Linked DNA regions of Homo sapiens. The protein of the gene in region 2 purifies or fractionates together with the protein of the main gene of each other region. This does not show direct contact. Each region holds a gene or a part of one and is shown on either strand. Other genes may lie near its edges.

What was found.
Region 1: the proteins of DDX54 (region 2) and MYO1F purify together in Homo sapiens (affinity purification with mass spectrometry; one large-scale study listed by BioGRID and IntAct). This does not show direct contact.
Region 3: the proteins of DDX54 (region 2) and YY1AP1 purify together in Homo sapiens (affinity purification with mass spectrometry; one large-scale study listed by BioGRID and IntAct). This does not show direct contact.
Region 4: the proteins of DDX54 (region 2) and CLTCL1 purify together in Homo sapiens (affinity purification with mass spectrometry; one large-scale study listed by BioGRID and IntAct). This does not show direct contact.
Region 5: the proteins of DDX54 (region 2) and LSM14B purify together in Homo sapiens (affinity purification with mass spectrometry; one large-scale study listed by BioGRID and IntAct). This does not show direct contact.
Region 6: the proteins of DDX54 (region 2) and LYAR purify together in Homo sapiens (co-immunoprecipitation; 2 studies listed by BioGRID and IntAct, with this or other methods). This does not show direct contact.
Region 7: the proteins of DDX54 (region 2) and RBM27 purify together in Homo sapiens (affinity purification with mass spectrometry; one large-scale study listed by BioGRID and IntAct). This does not show direct contact.

What each region holds. Positions count from the first base shown.
Region 1 is NC_000019.10:8,545,845-8,550,085, forward strand, and holds part of MYO1F (unconventional myosin-If), read right to left. Parts: intron 2,474-4,241; coding exon 2,393-2,473; intron 2,279-2,392; coding exon 2,192-2,278; intron 1,482-2,191; exon of another isoform or gene 241-1,481; intron 1-240. UniProt on the Homo sapiens protein: Myosins are actin-based motor molecules with ATPase activity. Unconventional myosins serve in intracellular movements. Their highly divergent tails are presumed to bind to membranous compartments, which would be moved relative to actin filaments.
Region 2 is NC_000012.12:113,171,398-113,175,638, forward strand, and holds part of DDX54 (ATP-dependent RNA helicase DDX54), read right to left. Parts: intron 3,761-4,241; coding exon 3,639-3,760; intron 3,540-3,638; coding exon 3,478-3,539; intron 3,375-3,477; coding exon 3,243-3,374; intron 1,167-3,242; coding exon 956-1,166; intron 1-955.
Region 3 is NC_000001.11:155,674,673-155,678,913, forward strand, and holds part of YY1AP1 (YY1-associated protein 1), read right to left. Parts: intron 2,075-4,241; coding exon 1,876-2,074; intron 425-1,875; coding exon 338-424; intron 1-337. UniProt on the Homo sapiens protein: Associates with the INO80 chromatin remodeling complex, which is responsible for transcriptional regulation, DNA repair, and replication. Enhances transcription activation by YY1. Plays a role in cell cycle regulation.
Region 4 is NC_000022.11:19,281,138-19,285,378, reverse strand, and holds part of CLTCL1 (clathrin heavy chain 2), read left to right. Parts: intron 1-4,241. UniProt on the Homo sapiens protein: Clathrin is the major protein of the polyhedral coat of coated pits and vesicles. Two different adapter protein complexes link the clathrin lattice either to the plasma membrane or to the trans-Golgi network.
Region 5 is NC_000020.11:62,128,700-62,132,940, reverse strand, and holds part of LSM14B (protein LSM14 homolog B), read right to left. Parts: intron 4,017-4,241; coding exon of another isoform or gene 3,909-4,016; intron 3,157-3,908; coding exon 2,989-3,156; intron 2,723-2,988; coding exon 2,645-2,722; intron 2,412-2,644; coding exon 2,250-2,411; intron 1,586-2,249; coding exon 1,435-1,585; intron 586-1,434; exon of another isoform or gene 1-585. UniProt on the Homo sapiens protein: mRNA-binding protein essential for female fertility, oocyte meiotic maturation and the assembly of MARDO (mitochondria-associated ribonucleoprotein domain), a membraneless compartment that stores maternal mRNAs in oocytes.
Region 6 is NC_000004.12:4,283,374-4,287,614, forward strand, and holds part of LYAR (cell growth-regulating nucleolar protein), read right to left. Parts: intron 3,200-4,241; 5' UTR 3,146-3,199; intron 423-3,145; 5' UTR 370-422; coding exon 248-369; intron 1-247. UniProt on the Homo sapiens protein: Plays a role in the maintenance of the appropriate processing of 47S/45S pre-rRNA to 32S/30S pre-rRNAs and their subsequent processing to produce 18S and 28S rRNAs. Also acts at the level of transcription regulation.
Region 7 is NC_000005.10:146,209,706-146,213,946, forward strand, and holds part of RBM27 (RNA-binding protein 27), read left to right. Parts: intron 1-4,241. UniProt on the Homo sapiens protein: May be involved in the turnover of nuclear polyadenylated (pA+) RNA.

The DNA.
Region 1 (4,241 bases), on a different chromosome or scaffold from region 2:
AACAAAGCCCGTCACTCCTATGTGGGCAAGGCTGGAAGTGCCAGGGAATTACATCTGGTTTCAGCAGTCCTTGACCAATAATCAACAGGAGTGGGTGGATAAATACCCCAGCTCCCTCGCTTCTCCGCTCTATGAAGCCTCCTCGAGTCCCAGTGCAGTTGCATTCCGGTTGTCCACAGCATAACGTGCTCATTAACACACTATTTTGACTCTTTTTTTTTTTTTTTTTTTTTTTTTGAGATGGAGTTTCACTCCTGTTGCCTAGGCTGGAGTGCAATGGCACGATCTTGGCTCATCGCAACCTCCGCCTCCCGAGTTCAAGCGATTCTCCTGCCTCAGCCTCCCGAGAAGCTGGGATTACAGGTATGTGCCACCACGCCGGACTAATTTTGTATTTTTAGTAGAGATGGGGTTTCTCCATGTTGGTCAGGCTGGTCTCGAACTCCCAACCTCAGGACATCTGCCCACCTCGGCCTCCCAAAGTGCTGGGATTACAGGCATGAGCCACCGCACACAGCTTGCTTTTTTTTTTTGAGACCGGGTTTTGCTCTGTTACCCAGGCTGGAACTCAGCGATGCGATCCTAGCTCACTGCAACCTTGACCTCCAGGGTTCAAGTGATCCTCTCATCTCAGCCTTCCGAGTAGCTGGGACCGTAGGAGCACACCACCATGCCTGGCTAATTTTTATGTTTTTTGTAGAGATGAGGTCTCACTATGTTGTCCAGGCTGGCTTTGAACCCCCAGGCTCAAGCGATCCTCTTAACTTAGCCTCCTAGATAGCTGGGACTATAGGTGTGAGTGATTGTGTCTGGCTCGGTCTGTCTCTCTCTTTTTTTCTTTTCTTTTTTGAGACAGGGTCTCATTCTGCTGTTGCCCAGGCTGGAGTGCAATGGCACAATCTCGACTCACTACAAGCTCTGCCTCCTGGGTTCAAGCAATTCTCCTGCCTCAGACTCCTGAGTAGCTGGGATTACAGGTGCCCAGCACCACACCTGGCTAAGTTTTATATTTTTAGTAGAGATGGGGTTTCACCATGTTGGCCAGGCTGGTCTCAAACTCCTGACCTCAGGTGATCCACCCACCTCAGCCTCCCAAAGTGCTGGGATTACAGGCGTGAGCCACTGCACCCAGCCTCTCTCTCTCTCTTTGTTAAAAAAATCCCTGTCTCAGGACTGGGCATATTAACTCATGCCTGTAGTCCCAGCACTTTGGCAGGCCAAGGCAGGAGGATTGCTTGAGGCCAGGAGTTCAAGACCAATCTGGGCAACAAAGTGAAACACCAACTCTACAAAAAAGTTTTAAAATATTAGCCAGGCATGATGGTGTGTGCCTGCGGTCCCAGCTACTTGAGAGGCTGAAGTGGGAGGATTGCTTGAGCCCAGGAGGTGTAGACTGCAGTGACCTGTGATCACACCACTGCACTCCAGCCTGGACAACAGAGCGAGTTCCTGTCTCAAAAAAAAAAAAAAAAAAAAAAAAGCGGGGAATGGTGGCTCCCATCTGTAATCCCAGCACTTTGGGAGGCTGAGGTGGGTGGATCACGAGGTCAGGAGTTTGAGACCAGTCTGGCCAATATGATGAAACCCTGTCTCTACTAAAAATACAAAAATTAGCTGGGCATGGTGGTGGGTGCCTGTAGTCCCAGCTGCTCGGGAGGCTGAGGCAGGAGAATCACTTGAACTCTGGAGGCGGAGGTTGCAGTGAGCCGAGATCATGCCACTGCACTCCAGCCTGGGTGACAGAACGAGACTTTGTCTCAAAAAAAAAAAAAAAAATCCCTGACTTACTTCCTCAGTCTCCTCTTGGAGCTTCCTGGGATTGCCTCCCAGAAAAACCATTTGTCTCTGAATCCTTGCCTCAGGCTCTGCTTCTGGGGGAGGGGCAAAATGAAGACAGCAGGGACTATTGCCTTATTGTTCATGGCTGTGTCTCCAAGCACCCTAAACAGTACCTGGCACACAACAGGTGCTCAATAAATAATTGCTGAATGAATGAACTAAGAGGCACGGTCCTTCCCAAAGCTTTAGAGGCAGAAGGAAGTATCACTATGGAGCCTGGGTAGGTTGGCACAGAGAGGTGGGAACGCGGTGGGGAGGGCTGGGGTGTCCCCTAGTTGCTAAGGGATCCTCATGGTCCTTCCACCCCACCCCCACCCCAGGATCCCCCATCCCTGACTGCTTGGCCGCCCACCTGCTCGGCCTTCAGGGTAAGTTCGATAAAGATTTGCTGCAGCTTCTCATTGACGAAGTTGATGCAAAACTGCTCGAAGCCATTTTTCTGCAGAAGGAGGAAAAGGGTCCTTCCCTCAATGTCCTGGTGCTGGAAGTTCTTGTGGCCACCCTGGGCTGCCCCAGGGAGGACAGGATGTGGGCTGGAGGCAGGGGGCCGTACCTGGAAGATCTCGAAGCCGTAAATGTCCAGCACACCGATGCTGTACTCTTCCTGGGGTTTCTGCATAGCACGGTTGATGGCCTGCGGTGTGGGTGGGGACAGGAAGTCAGTGGGCATCGGTCAGATCTGAAGCCCCTGCCCACCACTCCTTAGACACACGCCTAGCCAACTTCATGGGTGATGTCCCCTCATGCCAGTTTCCCTCCAGCCCTCTTTAGCTCTGCCCTTCCTGGCTCTGTGTACAGTCTCCCCACCCCATAATCAGTCACTCAGAGGAGAAACCCAAGTGTCAGTGTATCAGGGTCCCTGACTCCAGAGCTGACTCTGCCCCTGAACCTCTCTGCACCTCTATTTTCTTTTTTTTTTTTTCTTTTTTTTTTTTGAGACGGAGTCTCACTCTGTCGCCCAGGCTGGAGTGCAGTGGCATGATCTCGGCTCACTGCAAGCTCCGCCTCCAGGGTTCACACCATTCTCCTGCCTCAGCCTCCCAAGTAGCTGGAACTACAAGGGCCTGCCACCACGCCCGGCTAATTTTTTGTATTTTTAGTAGAGACGGGGTTTCACTGTGGTCTCGATCTCCTGACCTCGTGATCCGCCCGCCTCGGCCTCCCAAAGTGCCGGGATTACAGGTGTGAGCCACTGCGCCCGGCCTTGCACCTCTATTTTCTTATCTTTAAAAGGGGTTGATAATAGCAACTACCTTATGGGGCTTTTTCTTTTCTATTTTTTTTGAGATGGAGTCTCATTCTGTTGCCCAGGCTGGAATGCCAGTGGCGCAATCTCGGCTCACTGAAACCTCTGCCTCCAGGATTCAAGAGATTCTTCTGCCTCAGCCTCCCAAGTAGCTGGGATTACAGGCATGCGCCACCACGCCCGGCTAATTCTTGTATTTTTAGTAGAGACGGGGTTTTGCCATGCTGGCCAGGGCTGATCTTGAACTCCTGACCTTGGGTGATCTGCCCGCTTTGACCTCCCAAAGTGCTGGGATTACAGGCATGAGCCACTGCACCTGGCCATACATTTTATACTTTATTTATTTTTATTTTTTATTTTGAGACAGGGTCTCAGTCTGTTGTCCAGGCTGGAGTGTAGTGGCTTGATCATGGCTCACTACAGCCTCAACCTCCTGGGGTCAGGGATTCTTCCACCTCAGCCTCCTGAGTAGCCGGGATTACAGGCACCAGCCACCATGCCCGGCTAATTTTTGTATTTTTGTAGAGACAGGGTTTTGCCATGTTGCCCAGGCTGACTCCATACATTAAAAAAGTTTTTATTTTATTTATTTATTTATTTTGAGACAGAGTCTCTCTCTGTTGCCCAGGCTGGAATACAATAGCACGATCTCAGCTCACTGCAACCTCCACCTCCCAGGTTCAAGTGATTCTCCTCCCTCAGCCTCCCAAGTAGCTGGGATTAAAGGCATGTGCCACCACTCCCGGGTAATTTTTAGTAGAGAGGGGGTTTCACCATGTTGGCCAGGCTGGTCTCAAACTCCAGACCTCAAGTGATCCATCCACCTCAGCCTCCCAAAGTGCTGGGATTACAGGCATGAGCCACTGCATCTGGCCAAAAGTTTTTTTTAGAGACAGGGTCTTGCTCTGTCACCCAGGCTGGAGTACAATAGCGCAATCATAGCTCACTGCAGCCCCAACCTCCTGGGTTCAAATGATCCCCCAACCTCAGCCCTCTGAGTAGCCAGAACTACACATGCACACCACTACACCCAACTAATTTGAAATTTCTGTAGAGATGGGGGTCTTGCTATGTTGCCCAGGCTGGTCTTGAACTTCTGGCCTCAAAGAATGCTCCCAACTCAGCCACCCAAAGCATTGGGATTGCAGCCGTGAGC
Region 2 (4,241 bases):
TCAAGACCACCTTGGCCAACATGGTGAAACCCCTGTCTCTACTAAAAACACAAAAAATTAGCTGGGCCTGGTGGCGAGCACCTGTAATCCCAGCTACTCGGGAGGCTGATGCAAGAGAATAGCTAGAACCTGGGAGGTGAAGGTTGCAGTGAGCCGAGATCACACCCCTGCACTCCAGCCTGGGGTACAAAGCAAGACTCTCAAAAAAAAAAAAAAAAGTTTTGGGGACAGATGGTGGTGACAGTTGCACAATGGGAACAGACTCAATGCCACTCCACTGCACACTGGGAAATGGCAAAATGCTGAATTGCATGCTATGTCTACTTTACCACAACTTAAAATAGAAACATCAGAAGAATGGACACACACCAAAATGACGGCCATGTCATCAGAGAGCAATGGGGGACAGTGATCTCTGAAATGAGACCACAGCTGTTCCGTGACTTACGAAGGGCTGCGTCTCAATAAACCCAATAGCCGTCAAAAACACACGCACGGCACCTAACCCACTAAACATCGCAGCTCAGCCAGCCTGCCTTGAGCATGCTCCAAATACTTCCATTAGCCTACCCTTGGGCAAAATCATCCCACACATAGCCGATTTTAAAATAAAGTGTTGAGTATCTCATGTAACTTATTGAATACTGTACTGAAAGAAAAAAATAGAACAGCTGTATGGGTGCTATTGTAAAGTCAAAAAAACCATAAGCTGAATAATTGGGTTGTTTTTTTTTTTTGGTTTTTTTGAGACAAGATCTTGCTCCGTCACCCAGGCTGGATCGCAGTGGCACGATCGCGAGTTTGAGACCAGCTTAAGCAATATAGCGAGGCTCTGTCTCTAAAACAAGGCCCACAGCCACCCCATGTGCAGTGTCAAGAGTTAAGCCTTGTACCCTCGGCTTCTGCCAGGATCCGGCACCCCTGCCTGCCCCAGGGCCAGCCACGGGCTGCTTACCCACGCGGTGCAGGAAGAGTTTGCCCTTGGCGGGGAAGCTGTAGTTGATGACATTGTCCAGCAGCGGGATGTCCAGGCCTCGGGCGGCCAGGTCAGTCACAATGAGAGTGGAGCACTTGCCAAGCGTGAATTTGGCGAGATTGATCTTGCGGGCTGTCGGGTCTAGGGCACTGTAGATGTGGGCGCAGCTCACCCGCTGGGTCGTCAGCAGCTGCTCAGAGCAAAGATGGTAGCAAAGTGAGAAGGAGACTTGGAGGAGAAAGGAAAGGAAGCCAGACCATGGCGGGGGACGGGCACTGAGGTGCAGAGACAAGACCACGGGTTCTGGAGTCTGGCACCCTTGGTCTGAATCCCAGCTTGCTGGGTGATGCCAGTTTGGGGAGGAATGGAGCTTACAACACCTCCCACCTCTCTGCAGGGTTGTCTGAGGATCAGAGATGATGTGTGCAGAGGGCCCTCTCAGGGAAGCTGCAAATGCCACCTCAGTGCACAAGCCTTATCCGGATTCTGCTACAAACAAGCTGTGTGACCTTGGGCAAGTTACCAAACTTTTCTATGCCTCATTTTCCTCATCTGTACGAATAACTGCCCCTTCTTTGTGCCTTATTATGAGGATCACATGAGTCAGTATATACAGTGCTGAGAACAGAGTCTCAACATGGAACACTCATGAGAGTGCTAGCTGTTCTTTACAGATTACTATTTAAACTGGGCATGGTGGCTCACGCCTGTAATCCAGCATTTCGGGAAACCAAGGCTGGAAAATCACTTGAGACCAGAAACTCGAGACTAGCCTGGGTAACACAGCAAGACACCATCTCTACAAAAAAAATTAAAATAAATAAAAAATGAGCTGGCATGGTCAGGCATGACTTGTGCCTACAGTCCCAGGTACTTCGGAGGCTGAGGTGGGTGGATCACTTGAGCCCAGGAGGCAGAGGTTGCAGTAAGCCATGATCATGCCATTGCACTCCAGCCTGGCCAAAGGAGCAAAACTCTCTCTAAAAAAACAACTGTTTAAAAATTACTATTTTGGTCTTATTCACTGGTGACCCCAGCAGCTGCACAGAGGGAGTGTTGTTAACTGTGTGTGGAGTAAGTGAAACCCAGTGAACCATGTCCTCAGATAACAGACCCAGGTGTAGCTGACAGGGAGGCAGGCACCAACGGAAAGGGGCCCCACTGCCTTCTGGGGCACAGCGACTCCCCAGGCTTTGACCCAGGCGGGGGTCACACAGGCATAACACATATGAAAAAAATCTTTGAGCCACTCACACATGCTAACAGCGCTTCACACAGCTTGCTACATGCAGGTCATGCCTCAATCTTAAGAAGTCAAACAAACCACATACTAAAAATCTACAGGAAAATAACAGGATGGCAGGGACAGGCTTCAAAATAACCCGGATGTAAGGGGAACTAACGGATGAAGGTCAAGACCAGCTATCAGCTGGTAACAGTTGTACCTAGATAACGAGTACCCGGGGTTCATCATATTATTTTCTGATCTTAGAATTGGTTTGAAATTTTCTCACAATAAAAAGTTTAGGCCAGGCGCTGTGGCTTACACCTGTAATCCCAGCACTTTAGGAGGCTGAGACGGGCAGATCATTTGAGGTCAGGAGTTCAAGACCCACCTGGCCAACACGGCAAAACCCCGTCTCCATGAGAAATACAAAAATTAGACAGGCATGGTGGCGCCTGAAGTCTCAGCTACTCAGGAGGATGAGGCAGGAGAATCACTTGAACCTGGGAGGTGGAGGTTGCAGTGAGCTGAGATCGTGCCACTGCACTCCAGCCTGGGCGACAGAGTGAGATACCATTTCCAAAAAAAAAAAAAAAGAAATGTTTTCATAATCCCAGTACTATAATCCCAGTACTATGGGAGGCCAAGGTGGGAGGATCACCTGAGCCCAGGAGTTCAAGACCAGCTTGGGCAACCGAGTGAGAACCTGTCTTTACAAAATATAAAAATAAGTAACAAGTTAGTTGGGCATGGTGACATGCGCCAGAAGTCCCAAGTACTCGGGAGGCTGAGGCGGGAGAATTGTTTGAGCCTGGAAGGTCAAGGCTGCAGTGAGCCACGATTGTGCCACTGCACTCTAGCCTGGATGGCAGAGCGAGGCTCCGTCTCAAAAAAATAAAAAATAAAAATAAAAATGACCATCTTGAGCCCAGGCCCAGGCTCCTGGTCCGCTCTCGTGCTGCCCTCTAGTGACTGCACAGGGAACTGCAGCTCCAAACTCCAGCTGAAGGAGGTGCTCCTCCCACTCAGGACCCTGCTCACCTCAGTGAGGTACTCGGCGTGGTGCTTCGTGGCCACAAACACCACGGTCTGGTCCTGGGGCCGCACCACGTTGTGCAGCAGGTGGAGCAGCACGGCAGCCTTGGTGTCCTCCCGCACGAGGAAGAAGGAGGTCTGTGGGGAGAGGGCATCACGTGTTGGCTTACGGGGTCCTGGCCCAGGGCCTGCAGGGCCCACCTGGACACAACCTCCTGGGATGGGACAGGTGCAGCCTCACCTTCAGCTGCTCGTTGAGCTTGGTATCCACGTCAAGCCGGATGAGCACGGGCTCCGTGAGGCCTGCAGGAGACATGGGGGAAAGTGGGGGAGTCGCAGAGGGACTGGCCCCCAGGCCCCAGCCTGACCCCCAGCCCCCATCTCCACCCCCAGCTCACGCACCAGCCCGGGCAAATTCCACCAGCAGTTTGGGCAGCGTGGCGGAGAACAGCACCGTCTGGTGGCCCCCGGGGAGGCGGGCGATGATCTCCTGCAGCTGCTCTGCGAAACCCATTTCAAAAAGCCTGGAAGGGTAGAGGGCAGGACTGGGTCAGAGGGGGCCTTCACTCCCTGGAGTTCCAACCGCAGCCATCCTTGTCCCCACAACTTCTGCAGTGTCCCAGGGCTTGCCTCACTCTAACTCAGCCCACTCACACTTATCACGTGACTTCATCCTAAACAACAATAACCTTGAAATCTGGAATCTGTCTTGGTCATGTTCTTACAAACTCATGCTGAAATAAATGACAGCAGCCCAGGCTGGCTGCAGAGGCTCACACCTGTAATCCCAGCACTTTGAGAGGCCAAGGCAGGAGGAGTTCAAGAACACCCTAGGCGAGATCCCATCTCTACAAAAATAAAAAATTAGCTGGGGCCGGGCGCAGTGGCTCAGGCCTGTAATCCCAAGCACTTTGGGAGGCCAAGGCGGGCGGATCATGAGGTCAGGAGATCGAGACCATCCTGGCTAACACAGTGAAACCCCGTCTCTATTAAAAATACAAAAAA
Region 3 (4,241 bases), on a different chromosome or scaffold from region 2:
AAAAAAAATTACCCGTGGTGGTGCCCGCCTGTAGTCCCAGCTACTTGGGAGGCTGAGGCAGGAGAATCACTTGAACCCGGGAGGCAGGGGTTGCAGTGAACTGAAATTGTTCCACCGCACTCCATCCTGGGTGAAAGAGCAAGACCCTGTCTCAAAAAAGAAAAGAAAAAATTGAATACACTCTTTGTCCTTTCATGTGAATCAGTGGCTTATGTTCACTCAGCAAACATAGGAAGCCACAGCAATCAAAAATACCTGAGAGAATAACTGTGAGAAATAACCTGCCAAGCTAATTTTATATTCTAGTCTATAGAATTACGGCAATTTGGAAACTTACAAGACATATCCTGGTGCTACTGGCCTCCGGATTGAGATTGGGGTTGCAGGTGGCAAGAAGGTGGATTTGTGTCAAGAGCTGAACATGCTGGGGAGAGAAAGAAAATAATGCAGTGATATGTTATGACACTGCCATTTCAGGAGCCCAGAGATATTTTTTTTTCCCCCTGGAGACAGGGTCTTGCTCTGTCACACAGCTTGGAGTGCAGTGGTGCAACCATGACTCAATGCCCTCTCAACCACCTGTGCTCAAGCAATCTTCCCACCTCAGCCTCCCAAGTAGCTGTGACCACAATGCCTGGCTAATTTATTTTATTATTATTATTATTATTATTTTTAGACAGAGTCTCGCACTGACTTTTGGGCTGGAGTGCAATGGCGTGATCTCGGCTCACTGTAACCTCTGCCTCCCAGGTTCAAGTGATTCTCTTGCCTCAACCTCCCGAGTAGCTGGGATTACAGGTGCCCGCCGCCACACCCAGCTAATTTTTTGTTTTCGTAGAGACGGGGTTTCACCATGTTGGCCAGGCTTGCCTCAAACTCCTGACCTCATGATTCACCCGCCTTGGCCTCCCAAAGTGCTGGGATTACAGGTGTGAGCCACTGTGCCCAGCCTTATTTTTATTTTTTGTAGAGACAGAGTCTCACTATGTTGTCCAGGCTGCTTTTGAACTCCCCTGCTCAAGCAATCCTCCCACCTCAGCCTCCCAAAGTGCTGGGATTACATGTGTGAGCCACTGCACCCAGCCACCAGAGAGTCATTAACTAAGATGTTTGCAACTTTATGACACAAATTTTGCTTTCTGCAAAGAGTGTGAGAACAACGTAGGATCTTGGCATAAATTTCTCAGACATGTTCCCTTGAACAAAATGACAGAACCAGAGGAAGTTTAACCTCTAAACAGAGGAGGAACTGAGATTAGAAAAGGAAAAGGCCGGGCGCAGTGACTCACGCGTGTAATCCCAGCACTCTGGGAGGCCGAGGCGGGTGGATCACGAGGTTAGGAGATCGAGACCATCCTGGCTAACACAGTGAACCCTGTCTCTACTAAAAATACAAAAAATTAGCTGGGTGTGGTGGCGAGTCCCTGTAGTCACAGCTACTCGGGAGGCTGAGGCAGGAGAATGGCGTGAACCCGGGAGGCAGAGCTTGCAGTGAGCTGAGATTGAGCCACTGCACTCCAGCCTGGGTGACAGAGCGAGACTACGTCTCAAAAAAAAAAGAAAAAAGAAAAGGGAAAAGGGAAAAAAAACTACTTGTCACAGTGAAGGTTAAATTTCAGAATAGATTACTGAGGACTCTTTGAAATCTGTAATTCCGAATACCATTAGGGTCCTTATGTGCTGTCTTCCCTGAGCCACAGGACATGAACATGATGACTTCTCAAGCTCCTAACTGATGTGAAGATACTACGGTTTTAATACGTAGTAAGGTAACTATCTCTGACATTTACAAAGCTGCTAATTTTAGATTATACCAAAGCCTCAGAGTTAGGCCTTGGTATAATTCAATATTAATATGACCAAGGAAAGTGTTACCTGCTGCATCTGCTGCTGGAGTCTCTTCCTTTGTGCTGGGTCCAGAATCAGGGTCTGATGAACTTCCTTACACTGGGGTTTAACCTTCTCTACCTCCTTCTGCTGTTTGGCTGAAGGTTTCTTCATCTTCAGCTGTTCAAATAGTTCCTTCGCTATCTGATGTTGTTCATTTAGTAGGTTGGCCAGTAGTTCCTCAAACCTATCCCAAACGGGGATGACTGAATTTGAGTGTTTTCCTAGGTCCACAACACATCCAATTCTTTGCAATGATGAGCAAAGAGCCTGAACAATTTTCATTCCCTACTAATCCCCCCTTTTCACTTTAGCCAACAGTCAAACTCCCAGCCTTACACAAATCTTTTCCCAAAGTAGTTAGCATGCATCAAATGATTCTGTATTACACCCCATCCCATTCCTCTACAATTCCTCTTCCAAATAATATACAAATGAAGAAAAAATTAAACAAAAAACTAGGGACAGAGAAATATATGGGTAAGAAAGCAGCCAAGGAGCTGGTGGGAACTCATCATTCTCATTTCTTCTCTCATTACTTGTTACTCCCTGGGATGTTACTCCCATCCCAGGTCCAGCTTGTCCCATTATCCTATCTACTCAGGCTGCACTGCCCTGCTTTCTTAACAAGTCAAAGACTTTCTAGCATGAAGCAGGAAAAGGATATACCAAAATAACTGAAGTACATGGTAGTTCAAATGAACAGAACGGAGAAGTTAGTTAAAATATTATCCATGAAGGCTATCTTCTTTTAGCCCTTTAAATTCCTCTTCCAAGGTTCCTAACCCTAACTTCCCATCCATACCCTCCTGAAAGATTGTTTGCAGGGCTGAAGCAAAAATTCCAATACCTAGCATGTCAGTTCTATGTATGATTACTATACCTTTTCTATGTTTACATAGAAAGAAATAAAGGGAGAATAATATACCTAAATGATTAAGCATATGCTGATACCCTATGCAACAGGATAAGATCTGCTGAAGTAGCTATAACAAGCAGGTTATCATATTTCAAGGAACCCCCTATATTACAGCAATAGTTAAATGGTAACGTTTTTCAATAGTTTTTGCAGATAAAGATTACGTTTGAATAAGTTTTCTTTTATAGTATTTACTGTAGGTTTGGGTAGCACAGAGTAAAAACCTGAAGACCGTGGGACTGTCTATACAATCTTTACTGAGAACTGAAAATTTGAACATCCGCGCTACCACCACTGAAGGAACAGAAGAGAAGAAGCATAAAAAAGTAGAAAATGGAAACATAGCCTGCACTTAGTTTTAACAAGGATTATTTAGGTAATTGATAAGGGAAGCCCCAGAGTTTTTGTTTTGACTGTCTTTTTCTCCTCTCTCTTCCTTATTGTGTTTTAAGATGTGCTTACTCTCTATGGACTTACAGAGGGATTTTTATTTAGTCAAAGATTAAAACAAAAACAGGTTTGTATTTGCAATCGAAAGAGAAGCAGAAGCTGCCCAAGTACAGTCATGCGCCACAGAATGTTTCAGTCAATAACGAACCACATAGTCAGAGGTGGCTCCATAAGATTACTGTACCTTTTCTATGTTTACATACATATGTACTTACCATTGTGTTACAACTGCCTACAGTATTCAGTACAGTACAGTAACACACTGTACAGGTTTTGTAGCCTGGGAGCAATAGGTATGCAGTAGGCTAAACCATTTAGGTTTATGTAAGTACATTCTACGATGTTTACACAATGATGAATCGTTTAATGATAGATTTCACAGAGGGTATGACCATGAGATGATATATGACTATATTCCATTGAATACCAGAAGGTAACTGGATTCTAACAGGAATTTTAAATTAGTTCTATATTTTCCAAATTTTAAGAAGTTATAAAGAGTTGATCAGCAAAACCAAAATATTTATTAATCAGATCCTATTATACGTTCCCAGGATGAATGGTTCCATTCTGCTATACCAGAATTTTGTTCTATGAACTATAAATTAAAATAATGGGTCAAATACTGACTTAGCAATCTTGAGATTTTTGATGTAGTTGTATTGTGATATTTGTTGTAATGGAGAATGACTAGTAGTTCTAGTTTTTAAGACATTGGTTGGCCTATCTTATCTTTTTTCACTAAATTGGAAAATCCCTAAAGGTCTAGCTTTCAGATGGAACCCAAGCTCTCTGCTTAGTAGTGCTGTTAAGTTCAAACACAGGACTAATTACAGGGACTATTCTCTTTGCTTTGTTCCACTTATGGCACAAACTGCATCCTGACCTCTCGCCATCGACCTAATGATTATATGCTGCTACAACAGAATAAAGTGCAGATGCAAATCCACCACAAAATGAGGAAAAAATTAAAGCCTCTACTTTC
Region 4 (4,241 bases), on a different chromosome or scaffold from region 2:
CTTAGTGTCAACATTCTTCATAGGCCCTCATTTACAGAGCTCCCTCTTTAGGCTAGGAAAGGCTCTTTGGTAAGTTTCTTTTTCTTTTTCTTTTTCTTTTTTTTAAGATGGAGTCTTGTTCTGTTGCCCAGGCTGGAGTGCAGTGGCACAATCTCGGCTCACTGCAACCTCTGCCTCCAGGGTTCACGCCATTCTCCTGCCTCAGCCTCCCGAGTAGCTGGGACTACAGGCACCCACCACCACGTCCAGCTAATTTTTTATATTTTTAGTAGAGACAGGGTTTCACCGTGTTAGCAAGGATGGTCTCGATCTCCTGACCTTGTGATCCGCCTGCCTCGGCCTCCCAAAGTGCTGGGATTACAGGCGTGAGCCACCGCGCCCAGCGTGTTTCAAATATAAAATGTGTTTTTTATTTTATTTTCTTGAGACAGAGTCTCGCTCTGTCCACCAGGCTGGAGTGCAGTGGCATGATCTCAGCTCACTGCAGCCTCTGCCTCCCCGGTTCAAGCGATTCTCCTGGCTTCAGCCTCCTGAGTAGCTCGGACTACAGGTGCGTGCCACCATGCCTGGCTAATTTTTGTATTTTTAGTAGAGATGGGGTTTCACCATGTTGGCCAGGATGGTCTTAATCTCTTGACCTCGTGATCCGCCCACCTCAGCCTCCCAAAGTGCTGGGATTACAGGTGTGAGCCACTGCACCCAGCCCATTTATTTTTTTGAAACAGAGTTTCACTCTTGTTGCCCAGGCTGGAATGCAATGGCGTGGTCTTGGCTCACTGCAGCCTCCGCTTCCCGTGTTCAAGTGATTCTCCTGTTTCAGCCTCCCAGGTAGCTGGGATTATAGGTGCCCGCCACCACACCCAGCTGATTTTTGTATTTTTATAGAGATGGGGTTTCATTATGTTGGCCAGGCTGGTCTCCAACTCCTGACCTCAGGTGATCCACCCGCCTCGGCCTCCCAAAGTGCTGGTATTACAGGCGTGAGCAGCCACGCCAGGCCCTCAAAGTATGTTTTAAAAACTGTAGATGAACTAAATTTTACTGCCCTGAAACAAGTAATTTGTTTTACTATTTGTTTACCATCCATATGCTAGGCACAAGGATAAAGCAGTGAGTGAGACTGGGAAGGAGACAGATACAGAAAGAAAAAATATTGGTGTCCACATAGGTGTGAAAACATGGGGATGTTCAGTGCAACTTAAGCATTCTGGCTTCACTGATGTAGGCAGTTGATGTTCTCACTAATACTCTTGTACAAACACAGTTGTAGTCCTCCCAGGCAGACATCTTCCTTAAGCCCCTTATACATAGAAACCACAGGACTATCAGATGAGTAATTTCTTTTTGCATATTCCCCAGTGTCAGATTTTTTTTTTTTTTTTTTTTTGAGACAGGGTCTGTCTCTGTCACCCAGGCTGGAGTGCAGTGGCACAATCTTGGCTCATTCCAGCCTCTGCCTCCTGGTTTCAAGCGATTCTTGTTCCTCAGCCTCCTGAGTAGCTGGGACCACAGGCGTGTGCCACCATGCTCAGCTAAGTTTTTTATTTTTACTAGAGACAGGGCTTCACCATGTTGACCAGGCTGGTCTCGAATTCCTGACCTCCAGTGATCTACCCGCCTCGGCCTCCCAAAGTGCTGGGATTACAGGCATGAGCCACCATGTCTGGCCCCCATTGTCAGATTTGAATTTTGATTGATTTAATTGCAGGCTTTGAGAACTGAAAAGGATCATTAGACAGCATCTTCTTTACCTTTCTTTAGTTAAATCTTATATATGCCATTTAAAATGTGTAGCTAAGGTCCAGTGCAGTGGTGCATGCCTGTAATCTCAGCACTTTGGGAGGCCGAGGAAAGTGGATCACTTGAGACCAGGAGTTCAAGACCAGCCTGGCCAACATGGCAAAACCCTGTCTCTACTAAAAATACAAAAATTAGCCAGGTGCAGTGGCGGACACCTGTATTCCCAGCTACTTGGGAGGCTGAGGCATGAGAATCGGTTGAGTGTGGGAGGCAGACTTTGCAGTAAGCCAAGATTGCACCACTGCACTCCAGCCTTGGCGACAGAGCAAGACTCTGTCTCAAAAGAAAGAAAAAAAGAAAGAAAATTTTTTTAAAAATGTGTAGCTAGGTTACCTATCAGAATAATATACTAGGGATCAGGAATCCTTGGTTATTTCTACTAACTAGTGAAAAAAAAAACAAACCTGGGCCAGGCCCTGTGGCTCACGCCTATAATCCCAGCACTTTGGGAGGCCGAGGCGGGTGGATCACTTGAAGTCAGGAGTTTGAGACCAGTCTGGCCAATGTGGTGAAACCCCGTCTCTACTGAAAATATGAAAATTAGCCAGGCGTGGTAGTGGGCACTTGTAGTCCCAGCTACTTGGGAGGCTGAGGCTGGAGAATCACTTGAACTGGGGAGGCAGAGGTTGCAATGAGCCGAGATGGTGCCACCACTGCACTCCAGCCTGGGTGACAGAGTAAGACTCTGTCTAAAAAAAAAAAAAAAAGGAAAGAAAGAAAGAAAAAACCTGGCTTTTCAGCACATCACTTTTCTGGGACTTAGTTCCTGCGTATGGAGAAAAACTCACAGTAGTATCTGGCATCTTAGATGGAAAAGTTATTTTTGTGGGATTGTCCTGTATTGAGCATTCCTGGCTAAATGAGTAGAGAATGAGTTCCCCACTCATTGTACTATTAAAACTACCCTTGCCCATTTCTTTTTTTCTTTTTCTTTTTCTTTTTTTTTTTTTGAGACAGAGTCTCGCTCTGTCGCCCAGGCTGGAGTGCAGTGGAGTGATCCTGGCTTGCTGCAGCCTCCACCTCCTGGGTTCTCCTGCCTCGGCCTCCTGAGTAGCTGGGATTACAGGCACATGCCACCAGGCCTAGCTAATTTTTGTATTTTTAGTGGAGACGGGGTTTCACCATGTTGGCCAGGCTGGTCTTGAACTCCTGATCTCAAGTGATCCACCCGTCTTGGCCTCCCAAAGTGCTGGGATTACAAGCGTGACCCACTGCGCCCGAACCCATTGCCTATTTCTTTTTTTTTTTTTGAGACGGAGTCTTGGCTCTGTCGCCAGGCTGGAGTGCAGTGGCGCGATCTTGGCTCACTGCAGCCTCCGCCTCCTGGGTTGAAGCAATTCTCCTGCCTCAGCCTCCCGAGTAGCTGAGACTACAGGTGCACGCCACCATGCCTGGCTAATTTTTGTGTTTTTAGTAGAGACGGGGTTTCACCATATTGGCCAGGATGGTCTCCATCTCTTGACCTTATGATCTGCCCACCTCGACCTCCCAAAGTGCTAGGATTATAGGCGTGAGCCACCGTGCCCGGCCGCCCCTTTCCCATTTCTGAAGAATGCAGAATAGCACTCCTGGTTGAGAACTACTGTCTTAATTTAATCTGATTCTAATAGTCTTTATCTTATTTTTGGATCCACTCTTCTCAGTTGTTAAAACACTGTCTTATTTGTGAGGGACTTTTACCTTTTTCAAATGCCATACATGTGTATGTATGCTCTTAGATAAGGAACTTGACTCAGCTACTATTATTTAAGAACCCACTATGCTCAAGAGATTGGATACAAATTATTCAGGATTACCAATTCTTGGTATTTGGAGTTGAAATCAGAATGTCACCGTATTAACCCAACATCGATCCCCAAACTGAGAACAAAAGGACAATTTAGAAAACCCAGGCCCACTTCAGTGCACTGCTCTGTCTGGAGAGCATCCAGTCCTATCCTGCTAAAGCCGGAAAATCCAGATAGGTAGACAAGACCAAGAATGATTGCTTACCAATACGTGGCCAGCTTTGATTTACTTACGTCTCCGATCACTGCCAAATTTTATTGAGGCCAATTCCAGACATCTTGTTTTATCCTTAAACACTTTAGGATGTGTCACCAAGAGAGAACTCTTTGTTATTTTTTTCCAAGTTTTAAAATTGTGGTAAAATATACATAACATAAAATTTATCATCTTAACCATTTTTAGGTGTATATTTTAGCGATATTAAGTACATTCAAATTGTTATGCAGCCATCACCACCATCCATCTCCAAAACTCTTTTCTTTTTTTTTTTTTTTTTGAGACAGGGTCTCGCTCTGTCGCCCAGGCTAGAGTGCAGTGGTGCAATCTCGGCTCACTGCAAGCTCTGCCTCCTGGGTTCACGCCATTCTCCTGCCTCAGCCTCCTGAGTAGCTGGGACTACAGGCACCCACCACCATGCCTGGCTAATTTTTTTG
Region 5 (4,241 bases), on a different chromosome or scaffold from region 2:
ACCATGAAGTGGACCCTCCTAGACAAGGAGGAGGCTAGGATAGATGGAACAAGTTCCCTGGAATGTGATGCTTCTGCTTTGGGAGTTTGAAAGACAGGGATACAGCATGGACACTCATGCCACCCAAACAAGCTGCTGGTGGGAGACTATCTCCCACATCCAACTGTGCACCCAGCACTCCCACCCAGCACTCCTACCGACGCAGACAACAGCTCCAGCAGCACACCCACCCTGAGCTCCTCTTCAGCCGGAAACCTGCTGCTCCCACAGACTTCCGTGTTCAAAGAAACAGCAACTCCACCCATCAGCCGCCCAGGCCAAAAGACTTAGGAGTCATTCTGGACTCTTCTCTTGTCATGTTGGCCAATTCTGTTAGCGCCACCTTCAAGACACATTTAGACTCTACTCCTTCCCTCTGTCACCACCACTGCCTGGTTCCAAGCCACCTGTGCTGCAGCACTGGCCCCTAACTGGCCAGTCAGCAGCCACACTTGCCCACCGTCCAACCACTCTCACCAAGGACGCCGTAAAACATCAGACCGCACCACGCTTCAGCACAAAACCCTCTGATGGCTTCCCGCGGCACTTGGAACAAAAGCCAAAGTCACTGCCATGCCCTACAAAACCCTACAGGAACCCATCCCCCAGACTCGGCCTGTCTGGAAGCACTTCCCGCACTCATCTGCGCAGCCTGCTCTGCCTGTGAGAACTGATCATCCACTTCCCATCGAGTTACAGCCCCATCCCATCGCCCTCACTGCCTGGCCTTCACGACATGCTGTTCTATTTTTCCCCTGGCAGAACATGAACCTGAAGAGGTGGCGCTCTCCAGCCTGCCTTCTGAGGCCCCCTCAACGCCCCGCGGCATGTCTGGCGCTCAATCTGCAGGACAAATGGGCCCAAGTTTCCAAGCCAGGCCCACACTGTAGATGCCACCCACTCCCTAGGGTGCTTCGCGGGACTTCTGACCAGCTGTTAGGTGTGAAAAATAAAACACACCACATGGTCCCTGGCCTCAAACAATGAAGTGAAGGAAAGCCAGTGTGAGCACGTTCTAGCCATACCTCAGGCTGCTAAGCAAGGACCTCAGGCTGCCAGGCCAGCGGGACCAGCAAGCAGAGCACCGTGAGGTATGCTGAATGTGGACACGGGTCTGCCGGGGGGGGCGGTGCAGCCCAGCCTTTGTGGGGACAGGGCAGCAAAGCCAAGAGGAAACAGGCTCGACCTCAGCCAACTCCTCGGGTCGGGATCCCCAAGAGGCTTCCCACACGCAACCTGCTGGGACTCCGGCACCCATCATGCAGAAACGCAAGCAGGACCCTAGAACAGCTACCCTGAGCCTCAGAGTCCAGCTCTGCCCTCAGGTTGAGAGCCCTCAGCCCTGTCCTTTCTAGATTGGAGGACTGTCCTCCCCTCATTCATTCAGCCTCTCACCTGGTCTTGAGTTCAGAAGAGATGTTGTCGAAGAACGACTTGGATTTGTCATAGTAGCAGTTGGGCCCCAGAAGGTCTTCCTCAGCGGGCGCTTCGGCACTCTGGGTCACCACAGCCAGGTCCTTCTCTTCCCCCTTCTCAGCCTTGTCATCTACAAAAAGAAGCAGAACACGTGGAGATGGAGGAGGGGCAGAGCGCACAGCCTTTTAGCAGGGTGGTCCCTCCGGGCTCACTCGGAAGCCACCCTCAAGCTAAGACATCAACTATGCCTTGTGCAAAGCAGAAATCTCTTCTTCTACCTTCTAAGTACAGGTCTCGTTCTGCCGTCTGGGCTGTGCAGTCTGCACCTTATCCCACCCATTTTCACACCTCCCAGCACCTCACTTCATTAATTCCTCACTGCCGGTCACCATCCGCCTGGCATCCCCGGTTCCTCTAGGCATCTCTTCCTTTTCCTTGAGACAGAGTCTTGCTCTATCGCCCGGCTGGAGTGCAGTGGCGCAATCTTGGCTCACTCCCACTGCAACCTCCACCTCCTGGGTTCAAACGATTCTCCTGTCTCAGTCTCCCGAGTAGCTGGGATTACAGGCGCCCACCACCACGCCTGGCTAATTTTTGGATTTTTAGTACAGATGGGGTTTCATTGTGTTGGCCAGGCTGGTGTTGAACTCCTGACCTCAGGTGATCCACCCACCTCAGCCTCCCAAAGTGCTGAGATTACAGGCGTGAACCACCACACCCGGCCAGGCATCTCCTCCTAACACTCTCTAGGGGTACTCCTGTGCAGAGAATAATTTTCATATAATGAGCCAAACCTTTAAAATTCAGTTTCTTCTTAAATTCTTTGTCAAGCTCCTCTCGGTTGAACTGGGCATTTGCACTCTCGAAATCAAAGTCACCCTCAAATTTGATTGTGTTTTCCTTAACGTTAGTTGGACGGTTTTGCCCTCTGGAGCGATTCCTTGTTCGCCTGTTTCCTGTGAGGACAAAGGACAGCCCTGGCTGAAGTAGGTCACCAACCCAGTGATCTCAAACACCTCACAAGGAATTTCCAGGCACACCCCCAAGGCCACAGAAGGAACAGAGCACACAAGCAGCGACTTCACACCAGCACCCCTGAAACCGTCAACCAGAGAAGCAGGCAGGAGGGCAAGCAGAGCTCAGCCTGATCACTCGTGGTCCCCAGAAATCAAGTGGCAACAGGTGTTACCTGATCGCCTCCTCTGAGGTCTTCTGTTCTCGTCATTCACCTGCCCTTGAGCTTGCACAGCTGCCGGCTGGACTACATCTACGGCGCAAAAGGGAAGAGTAAGGCAAAGCTCCTATAGCAGCCGGAAGCCAGAACCCAGCTGTGGAAGCAGGCCCCACCACCATGGGGCACGCGGCCAGGGCGGCACCGCAGGAGGCTGCTGCACAGGCCTGCCCTGCAAAAGCACATGGGGCTTAGGATGGGGGAGTAGTATTTTTTTAATTAAAAAAAAAAAAATAGCCCAGGAAGTAGTGTGCCACTTTTAGAACATCAAGCAAACTCCAGGAAATGATGTGTTCAAGTACCGCTGGCCGTCTTGCTGCTCGGCTGGGCCTGACGACCGTTGAGCTGCGTCCCTGTGGTGCCCTTGCCAGGTAACAGCTTTTTAGCATTCAGGTTGTCAGCAGAACCAGTCTGCACAGCCTGCTCCACCATGGGGCTCTTGCCGACTGGGATGGATGGAAAACCAGCTCCTGAATTGAGGAGGGGAGGAGGGTTTAAAAACAGAGAGAAAAGAAGCAAGCCTTATATCTCCAGGCATTTCTCTTCTGCTGGCATGTCAGGAAGGAAAGGAGGGCAACTGCCTAGATGTTCTATCAAATCCAGGCAAAGCACCCCCAGACTGGGCCATTCCCTCTGAGGCTAGCCCAGGCAGCAAAAGAAGGCCAAGAGTCACTGGGCAGCACCAAGGCCAGTTCATCTTTGGACTCCCCACTCCCAAAGCCCTGAGCTTCCCAAGTTAGGGAACCTCAAGGACAGGAAAAACACCGTGCCTACAAACAGGCACCTCCCCAGAAGTGTGGAAACAGCTTTCTTAAAACCACACAAGCTCCAATCCCAAAGGAGCTCAGCAGCCCCAAGATCCTGATGAATTCAGGATCTGAGAATTTGTTTCATTCTGGTCCACACTGGAGAAGAACCAGCCCAGCCTGGGATTTTCTAGAAAATGCAGTGAACAAATTCTGAAGTTAAATTCTACAACACTGTCATTTCCACTTAAGGCACAATAAAACTAAAAATGATGAAGCAGGAGCTGACTTCCGAGACGTAGCAGCCTACACTTCTCTCAAGGGCAAAGGCTCATCATGAAGACACAAAGGGCTCCTAGGTAGCCTTTGGCAAGGGGCTATGCCTATGAAACTGCAGTCCGAGGCCCACGCACAGGGGATGAACCCTCAGAAACCAGGCCCTCTGAATCAGGAGGAAAATGGGAAGCACCACCCACCTCTCTCCATCTCCTCCCTTTCCAAGGTTCCAGGACCTGTAGGGACTCTAAACAGGACAATGTGGGACTGGGTGTAAGTGAACAGAGATCTGAAACAGAAAAGGCACCCTAACCACAGGGTAATTATTATTAGACGAACAGCCCAATACACATGAAGACTGGGCATCTCATCTTACTGCTTTTACGGAATAGAAATGAAAAAAAAAATTGACTGTAGAAAAATTCCTTGTAACCAGATCAAGAGAAGCTCTCAAAGGGCAGGTTGGAACGACTCTGCATAGAGGTCTGGAAAGTGTCCTCTGGCGGGAATGCACCCGGGCCACTTTCTCACTG
Region 6 (4,241 bases), on a different chromosome or scaffold from region 2:
CTCCTGACCTCATGAGCCACCCACCTTGGCCTCCCAAAGTGCTGGGATTACAGGCCTGAGCCACTGCGCCCGGCCTAGTAAAGCACATTTGAAAGAATCACACCAGTTTTAATCAATGGAACATACCAGTTTTTAGTCTTAATTTCATTCTTCAAATTTGCCACTATTTTTCCAAGCTTTGTGGCGCCAAGGCTTCCAAAACTGATCTGGATTTACTATGGATCTACATGAATTCTGTGAAGCTTACCAGAAATCTTTACCGCAGTCAATGCAAGAAAGGCATTCACAGTTTCTGCAAACAGACACATGCTTTTCCACTTGTATTTTCTTCACTGATTCACCACATGCATTGCATGTAAAAAATACCATTTTTAGGTAAATGGCTAAATATTCTCTATCCAAGACAGGTTTTAAGTCTTGTCCTAAGGAAAAAAAGACAATTATAATTATAAACTGAAACTTCTCATTTCAATAAATGGCTCATGCCCCTAACTTTTCAACCATAATTTCACATGAAAATAACAGAGTCAAAGTTGATTAGCAATCTACATAAAATTCCACCATTCATATAAGTAAAACTAACATTAACAATGAGAATGGCTAACATTTATTGTGTCCTTACCACGTGCCAGGCACTATTCTAGAGGCTTTACATTTATTCACTTATTCAATCCCCGCAGTAACCCTATGAGGGAAGGACTATTATTGTTCAAAATTTATATGAGGTAACTGAGACACAGAGATTACATAACTTGCCCAAGGATACACGGTTAACAGAACCAGGATTTAAACCTGGCAGATTGGCTCTCAAGATGAAGAGCTTTGAGGGTGTTAAATCTTACTTTCCATAATACCTTAAACTCTCTCTCTGTATATGAAACTTATAGAAGGCATTGCAATTTAGGTGTACACTACAAACTATTTCAGGTCCTCAAATATACTAAGAACACAGCAAGAGGAAAACTGAGTGAAGTTTAGAAAGTGAAGAAGAGGCAATTCTATGGGCACAATTTCTATGGCACTAAAAGCATTCATATCAATATTACTATATATCTACAAAGGTTAAAATGAGGACATGCGCCTCAGCTGTAATGGACAGGGGCCTTCTTCATGTGGCAGCTTGTCAGACAAGTCAGAAAGAAACGGAACCAAGTCCAGGTGTCCCAACTGCTGGGTGCTGAATTACTGGAGTTCACAAACCCAGGTGTCCCGAGCACTGCCCCAAAAAGAAGTATGTCTGCACACGCACATAAACATCATTGTAAAATTTCACAGAAATGCTACCGTGCTCAGGAAAACACAAATTCGTCTAGAAGTGTTAGAGAAGTCACAGTAATTTTCCATACTTACATAATTTTTAATCACTAGATTTTAAAACAGCATTGTTGTTTTACATTATAAGTTTTACAGCAAAAATACTGAGAACTGTTTAACCCAGAGCTTTCTTCCTCATTAGGAAAATAAAGGTGAGGGTCAAGTAAACCGATGCAATTTACTTCAGGGTAGGACTTCATCCAACAAGCTTTCAGTACAAATGATCTACCCTTGGTTTGCAGAGAATTCCCATGCATGAAATCACCGTTGCTCCTCCACCAGCATGTTTTGGATCACTGCCAGTGAGGCCACACCCAAGCAACGACCAAGGTTATTCATGTCCATTCAGCCTTGAATGGAAATGTACATCCTGGCTGCATCTCCAGGGTTCACAAAGGTCCAGCTGGTCTCTTGTGGAGGCCTCTTGCCCTGTGGGACACTATCAGACATCAGCTCAGCTTCTACGCTACATACAAACCACAGACCCCTGATTCCGCGGTCCCAGGCCCCGCTCCTCAGCTCACTATCAGTGTATGTTAGTAAACGGACAGCATGTGGTCAGCTACAACCTAGCACCAAATCCTCAGGAAGGAAAACATGACTACCCTCGATGTGCTGCAGCAACTGTCATCTTCTCATCTGCTTACTGTAAAGATGTGTGATATTGTCAAGCTCCTGGGAGCTGGAATCACGTTTCCCACAACCCAGCTCCCTCAAAGCTTACCATTCTAAAAAAAGGCAGAGGGATGATCAACATGTCAGGCAACAAGAGCAGCTATCCTGCCTGACAAGGGAGAACAAAGGCTGGAATAAGAGCCAACATCACATTCTCAAAGAGCATGGAGGTGCACTTTGGTGTAAGAGCAGGAATAACTTATTAGTCACCAAGAAATAGATTGTCATCACAGGCACAAGGTGAAAGCAGCCGTGATATGCCAAATTATCTGCTGAAAAACGTTAAAGCACTTTTCTAATAAGATACAACAACAAAAAACAGTCTCTGAAACTTAGATACGGCTTAGAGCTTGCCAACCTCTGTTGCTGAGGACAATTCTATTTCTGGATGGAGTGGGAGATGGGAGGAAGAAAGGTTTCGACAAGGCTTAAGAGTGAATTGAGAGATTCCTGTCCCAGCAGGAATTAAAGGCCTAGGAAGGAAGCTGGAAACAAAATATATTGACTGAAAGAAGCAGTGAAAGCAGTGATGTTGACAAAAAGATACTCAAGAGTAACTGTGCCAAACATTCTATCTCTCTGGAGATCGGCTACACACTACAGTGTAATTAAATATCAATTCAGAAGGTGATTAGAATCTGGTTACATGTCCAGCTAAAAAATAACTCTCACATCATTTTCATTTGGTCTTTACTTGTTTAAGGCCAAATGGGTGGATTGCACAGGAAGTCAGAACTGTCTCTTCCTGCCTTCCTCCGGATTTTTACACTTGCCATGAAATGGGAACAGCTCTGTGTCCACTTGCTTGGCTAATGAGCTAATGTCTGTAAGGAGCTTACCTCTCCTTTATTCAGAGCCTGGAGGACAGTCCAGCACCTTGATTACACCTCAAACCCAACCTAGCCCCAGGCGAAAATACCTGTAATTTATGCCATAAACACTTGCTTGGGCTTCAAAGAAAAGCTCAAAACCATCAGAAGCTTCAAAGTCAGCCTAACTGCACAGCAGACAGGGTGTCCCAGGTCTTAGTGCAGGCTTAATATTCGTAAGCGTAAATGCTACAAACTTACAAAAAGCCGTCAGGTGGAAATTCAGTCCCTCTAATGGAAGACAGCAAACATTGCCTAAAACAAAAATGTAAATACTACAAACTTACAAAAAGCCGTCATGTAGAAATTCAGTCACTCCAATGGAAGACAGCAAACATTGCCTAAAACAAAAAAGTAAAACGGTATTGTTCAAATTCCACAAGACTAGATAAGCATGAAGGAAATTTAATTAAACTTTTTTTTTTTTTTTTTGAGAAAGGAGTCTCGCTTTGTCGCCCAGGCTGGAGTGCAGTGGTGCATTCTTGGCTCACTGCAAGCTCCGCCTCCCGGGTTCATGCCATTCTCTTGCCTCAGCCTCCCGAGTAGCTGGGATTACAGGCATCCGCCACCACGCCCAGCTTATTTTTTGTATTTTTTAGTAGAGATAGATGGGGTTTCACCGTGTTAGCCAGGATGGTCTCAATCTCCTGACCTCGTGATCCGCCTGCCTCGGCCTCCCAAAGTGCTGGGATTACAGGCGTGAGCCACCGCGCCCGGCCTTAATTAAATTTTAAATGATGTTTTGGCAAGTTTGGATCATTTATGCTTCTGAAATTATGAAAGCTTAAAACTGCATTAAGATTTTGAGGACACCCAGTCTGCCGGGCTCAGATGTGACAGATTTCAACATCTAGCCCTAAGTGTAAAAAGACAGCAGTTTTTTCATGGGGCTGGATCTAAATAGAGTCCTCTTTTCCTTCCCTGGCTCCCCAACTCCCTCTGCCCAATGTCCAGTCCCAGCGCAGCCAGAGAGATTCTACATGCTTTCCTTCTGGCCACATGCGCATGTTAAAAGAGAAAGGCAGGCAGAAGGCAGTGTTCTTGGACTGGTTGAGAGCATACTTCGGTTCTTGCTCAGTCACTTTAACTCAATTCGGCAGACATTTCCTGAATGCTGACACTATCCTATCCACCCAGATACACCTGGGGCCCTCACGCAGGTCCTCTGCGTGTGCTCCTGGCTGCGTCTTCGTCTGTCTGTATGGTCAGTTTACTGAGCTCTCATCACATGCCATACCCATGAAAAAGATGACGGGGTCTGCACCATAGAACACATGATCATTAGCTCTCTACAAAGCCGTGTCCCATTTATGAACACAACTGCCCCCAATACCACTAAGACTGCTATGATCATACTACCTCCATCTGGAGAGAAAACCTAAG
Region 7 (4,241 bases), on a different chromosome or scaffold from region 2:
TTTTGGAGGTATATTCTTAAGTTTGGGAAGTACTGGTAATTTTCGAAGTGTACTTAGTTGCTTCAGAGAATTAGTGTGTCTCTAAAGTGCTGTGGGACTTAAGGATACCATTCACTATTTCATAGAAAAGAACTTTGGCCAGAAGACTTCTTGGCAAGTTTTAGTCTACTAACTTAAGAACATATTTGTTCTTATGTCCTTTGGTCTGCCTTTTAAAGATGTCTGACTTCATCCTTCCTGGCCCAATAACTATAGGCTAAAGCCAGAAGTTGCCTTTTTAGCCCTGTGTTTCTTGCCACTGTCTTCTCTTATCCTCTTACAGTGTTGCTACTTACTTCCTTATTAATCTCTTTTTATACAATGTATTATTTTGTACTGTAATTATTTGTTTTCGTATCCACCTCTTGGCCATGGGCGTGCAGGGCAAGGTCTGTTTTGTTTAAAGTAATTCCATTACCAAGCAATATGCTTGGCACTTAGTAAACACTCAGTATATGTTTAAATGAATGAACATTCTCATATGTATATACAGGTAATTGACAATTAGAAAAGTAAGAATTTTTTAGTAGTCTAATTTTGTGCATGTATTTAGCTAGTGGCTACTATACTAGGAGCTATGGTCCAAATATCCAAATGGTATTTGCAACTGATGAATGTATGTATATATTTTCCTCCCAAATAAATCTAGGGTTATTTCTTCCACATGATACTCATTCATGAAAGCCCCTAATTACTTAAGGGGAAGATGAAAGTACTATGGTCTGAATGTTGGTGTCCCCTCAAAATTCATGTTGGACATCTCAAAAAAAAAAATATGTGAAAGGAGCCTGCTTGTTACCATGAGAGGACACAGAAGGTACCATCTGTGAAGAATGGGCCCTCACTAGACTCCAAGTTTGCTGATGCTTTAATCTTGAACTTCCCAGCCTGCAGAACTGTGAGCAATACATTTCTGTTTATAGCCGGGCACGGTGGCTCATGCCTGTAATCCCAGCACTTTGGGAGGCTGAGGCGGGCAGATCACGAGGTGGGGAGATGGAGACCATCCTGGCTAACACAGTGAAACCCCGTTTCTACTAAAAATATAAAAAATTAGCCGGGCGTGGTGGCGGGCGCCTGTAGTCCCAGCTACTCAGGTGGCTGAGGCAGGAGAATGACGTGAACCTGGGAGGCGGAGGTTGCAGTGAGCCGAGATTGCGCCACCGCACTCCAGCCTGGGCGGCAGAGCGAGACTCCGTCTCAAAAAAAAAAAAAAGAAAAATTCTGTTTATAAATTGCCTAGTTGGCTGGGCATTGTGGGCTCATGCCTGTCATCCCAGCACTTTAGGAGGCTGAGGTGGGTGGAGCACTTGAGTCCAGGAGTTCGAGACCAGCCTGGACAATGGGGCGAAACTCTGCCTCTACAAAAAAATAAAAAAAATAGCCTTAGTCAGGCATGGTGGTTCACACCTGTCGTCCTACCTACTTGAGAGGCTGAGGTGGGAGGATCACTTGAGCCTGGGAGGTTGAGGCTGCAGTGAGCTATGATCAAGCCACTGTACTCCAGCCTGGGCAACAGAATGAGACCCTGTCTCAAAAAATAAATAAATACTAAATTGCCTAGTCTAAGGTATTTTGTTATAGTAGCCCAAACAGACTAAGAGAGAAAGTTTTCATTTGAAAAAAAGTAGAAGTACCAATATATGTGTATCTTTAATAAATATTAACAAATGTGAAAGTCAACTCCATTTTTACTTACTTTGTCCAGTATGGTCTTATCTTTTTTTTTTTTTTTTTTTTTTTTTTTTTTACTTTGAGAGGAGTTTCGCTCTTGTTGCCGAGGCTGGAGTGCAATGGCATGATCTCGGCTCACCACAACCTCCGCCTCCTGGGTTCAAGCTATTATCCTGCCTCAGCCTCCTGAGTAGCTGGGATTACGGGCATGTGCCACCACACCTGGCTAATTTTGTATTTTTGGTAGAGACAAGGTTGCTCCATGTTGGTCAGGCTGGTCTCGAACTCCTGACCTCAGGTAATCCGCCCCTGGGATTACAGGTGTGAGCCGTCAGGCCTGGCCCAGTATGGTCTTACCAAAGGGATAATCTGAACACAGATCTCAGAGTCAGACTTTTTTTAAAATTCACTTTCATTCTTTTAAAATAAAAATAAGCGTATTATTGCATTATGACAGTATAGAAAGTAGAGAAAAGAAAATTATTAGTATTTATTTTGTTTTTCTTATGTGTATGAATTTTTATATAGCTACAGTCAGACTCATTGTAAAATTCTGATTTCTTTGACATTACATCAGAAGCATTTTTCACATTTATATATTGCTTTTATAACCATCACTTTGGTTTTTTTGGTTTTTATTGTTCCCGCCACCCCCGAGATGGAGTCTTGCTCTGTCACCCAGGCTGGAGTGCAGTGGCGCAATCTCGACTCACTGCAGCCTCCGCCTCCCGGGTTCAAGTGATTCTCCTGTGTCAGCCTCCCAAGTAACTGGGATTACAGGCACGCGCCACCACGCCTGGCTAATTTTTGTATTCTTAGTAGAGATGGGCTTTCACCATGTTGGCCAGGCTGGTCTTGAACTCTTGACCTTGTGATCCACCCGCCTTGGCCTCCCAAAGTGCTGGGATTACAGGCGTGAGCCACCCCGCCCGGCCCTTGTTTTTTATTAAGACAGGGTTTTGCTCTGTCACCCAGGCTGGAGTGCAGTGGCATGGTCATAGCTCACTGTAGCCTCAACCTTCCAGGATCAGACAATCCTCCCACTTCAGCCTCCTGAGTAGCTGGGACTATAGGTGCATGCCACCACACCAGGCTAATTTTTTTATTTTATTTTTTTAGAGATGGAGGTCTCACTATGTTGCCCAGACTGGTCTTGAATTCCTGAGCTGAAGCAATCCTCCCACCTCAGCCTCCTGAAGTGCTGGGATTACAGGCATGAGCCACTGTGCCTGGCCATAACCATAATTTTTTAAAAAACATTTGTTTATTGTATTATATTGTATTATAGTATATTACATATATATTTTTTGAGATGGAGTCTTGCTTTATTGCCCAGGCTGGAGTGCAGTGGCGTGATCTCAGTTCACTGCAACCTCCGTCTCCTGGATGGATTCAAGCGATTCTCCTGCCTCAGCCTCCTGAATACCTGGGATTACAAGCACCCACTACCGTGCCCAGCTAATAACCATCACTTTGGATGCCTAATATTTCACAAACATCCAACAATAAGAGAATGGTTACCTTGGCACTATTTTTTTGTTAAAAATTAATGCTGTTTTTATTTAATAAATATATTTTGTGTGTGTATAGCTTTAGGTACTAGTAATATTTTCTATATATGCCTTTATTTCCTTCGTCTAGTTTATCATAAGTGTAACTACTGGTCAGAGAATATGGATTTTTTTTGTTGTTGTTGTTGTTGATATGGAGTTTTGCTCTTGTTGCCCAGGCTGGAGTGCAATGGCGTGATCTTGGCTCACTGCAACCACCGCCTCCCGGGTTCAAGCAATTCTCCTGCCTCAGCCTCCCGAGTAGCTGGGATAACAGGCATGCACCACCATGCCCAGCTAATTTTGTATTTTTAGTAGAGATGGGGTTTCTCCATGTTGGTCAGGCTGGTCTCAAACTCCTGACCTCAGGTGATCCACCCTTGGCCTCCCAAAGTGTTGGGATTACAGACGTGAGCCACCACGCCCAGCCAAGAGTGTGGATATTTTAATGGCTGTTGATACACATTGAGATCAGGAGATTTTTTTTTTTTAAGCTGTGGCTCAGAAGCACATGTATTAGTTGTTTCACCTCTGAAAGAAAGAGCACATTAAGATGGAACTTAAAATTAGATCCATATTCAGAAACATGTAAATTTTTCTGCAAGTGGGAAAGGTCTAAGTAGTCTTGGCTTTTTTCCTAAAGCAAGTAAATGGTAATGGTTTTTCAGTAGTGTTTTTTGGCTTGGGGCCAAAGGTGTAGGACCTTACTCTTTGATCTTATGATTGCATGTCTGAAATTTTCTATGAAGCTTATGTACTGGCTCAGCAGTTGTGTAATATACGTGCAATAGAGATTTCATTAAAAGGGGAAAAAGATAAATTTGAGATTTTTACAGATGAGGTATTTTTAGGGCAATGTTTCTATTAGCTTACTCCGATAAAAATTTGTTGACTTTTATTTTTTAAATAACTTAAAACATAATTGAAGCATGTTCTTAAAACGTTATTGTGCAAGGTGTGAATTTTAAGGAGTCCTAT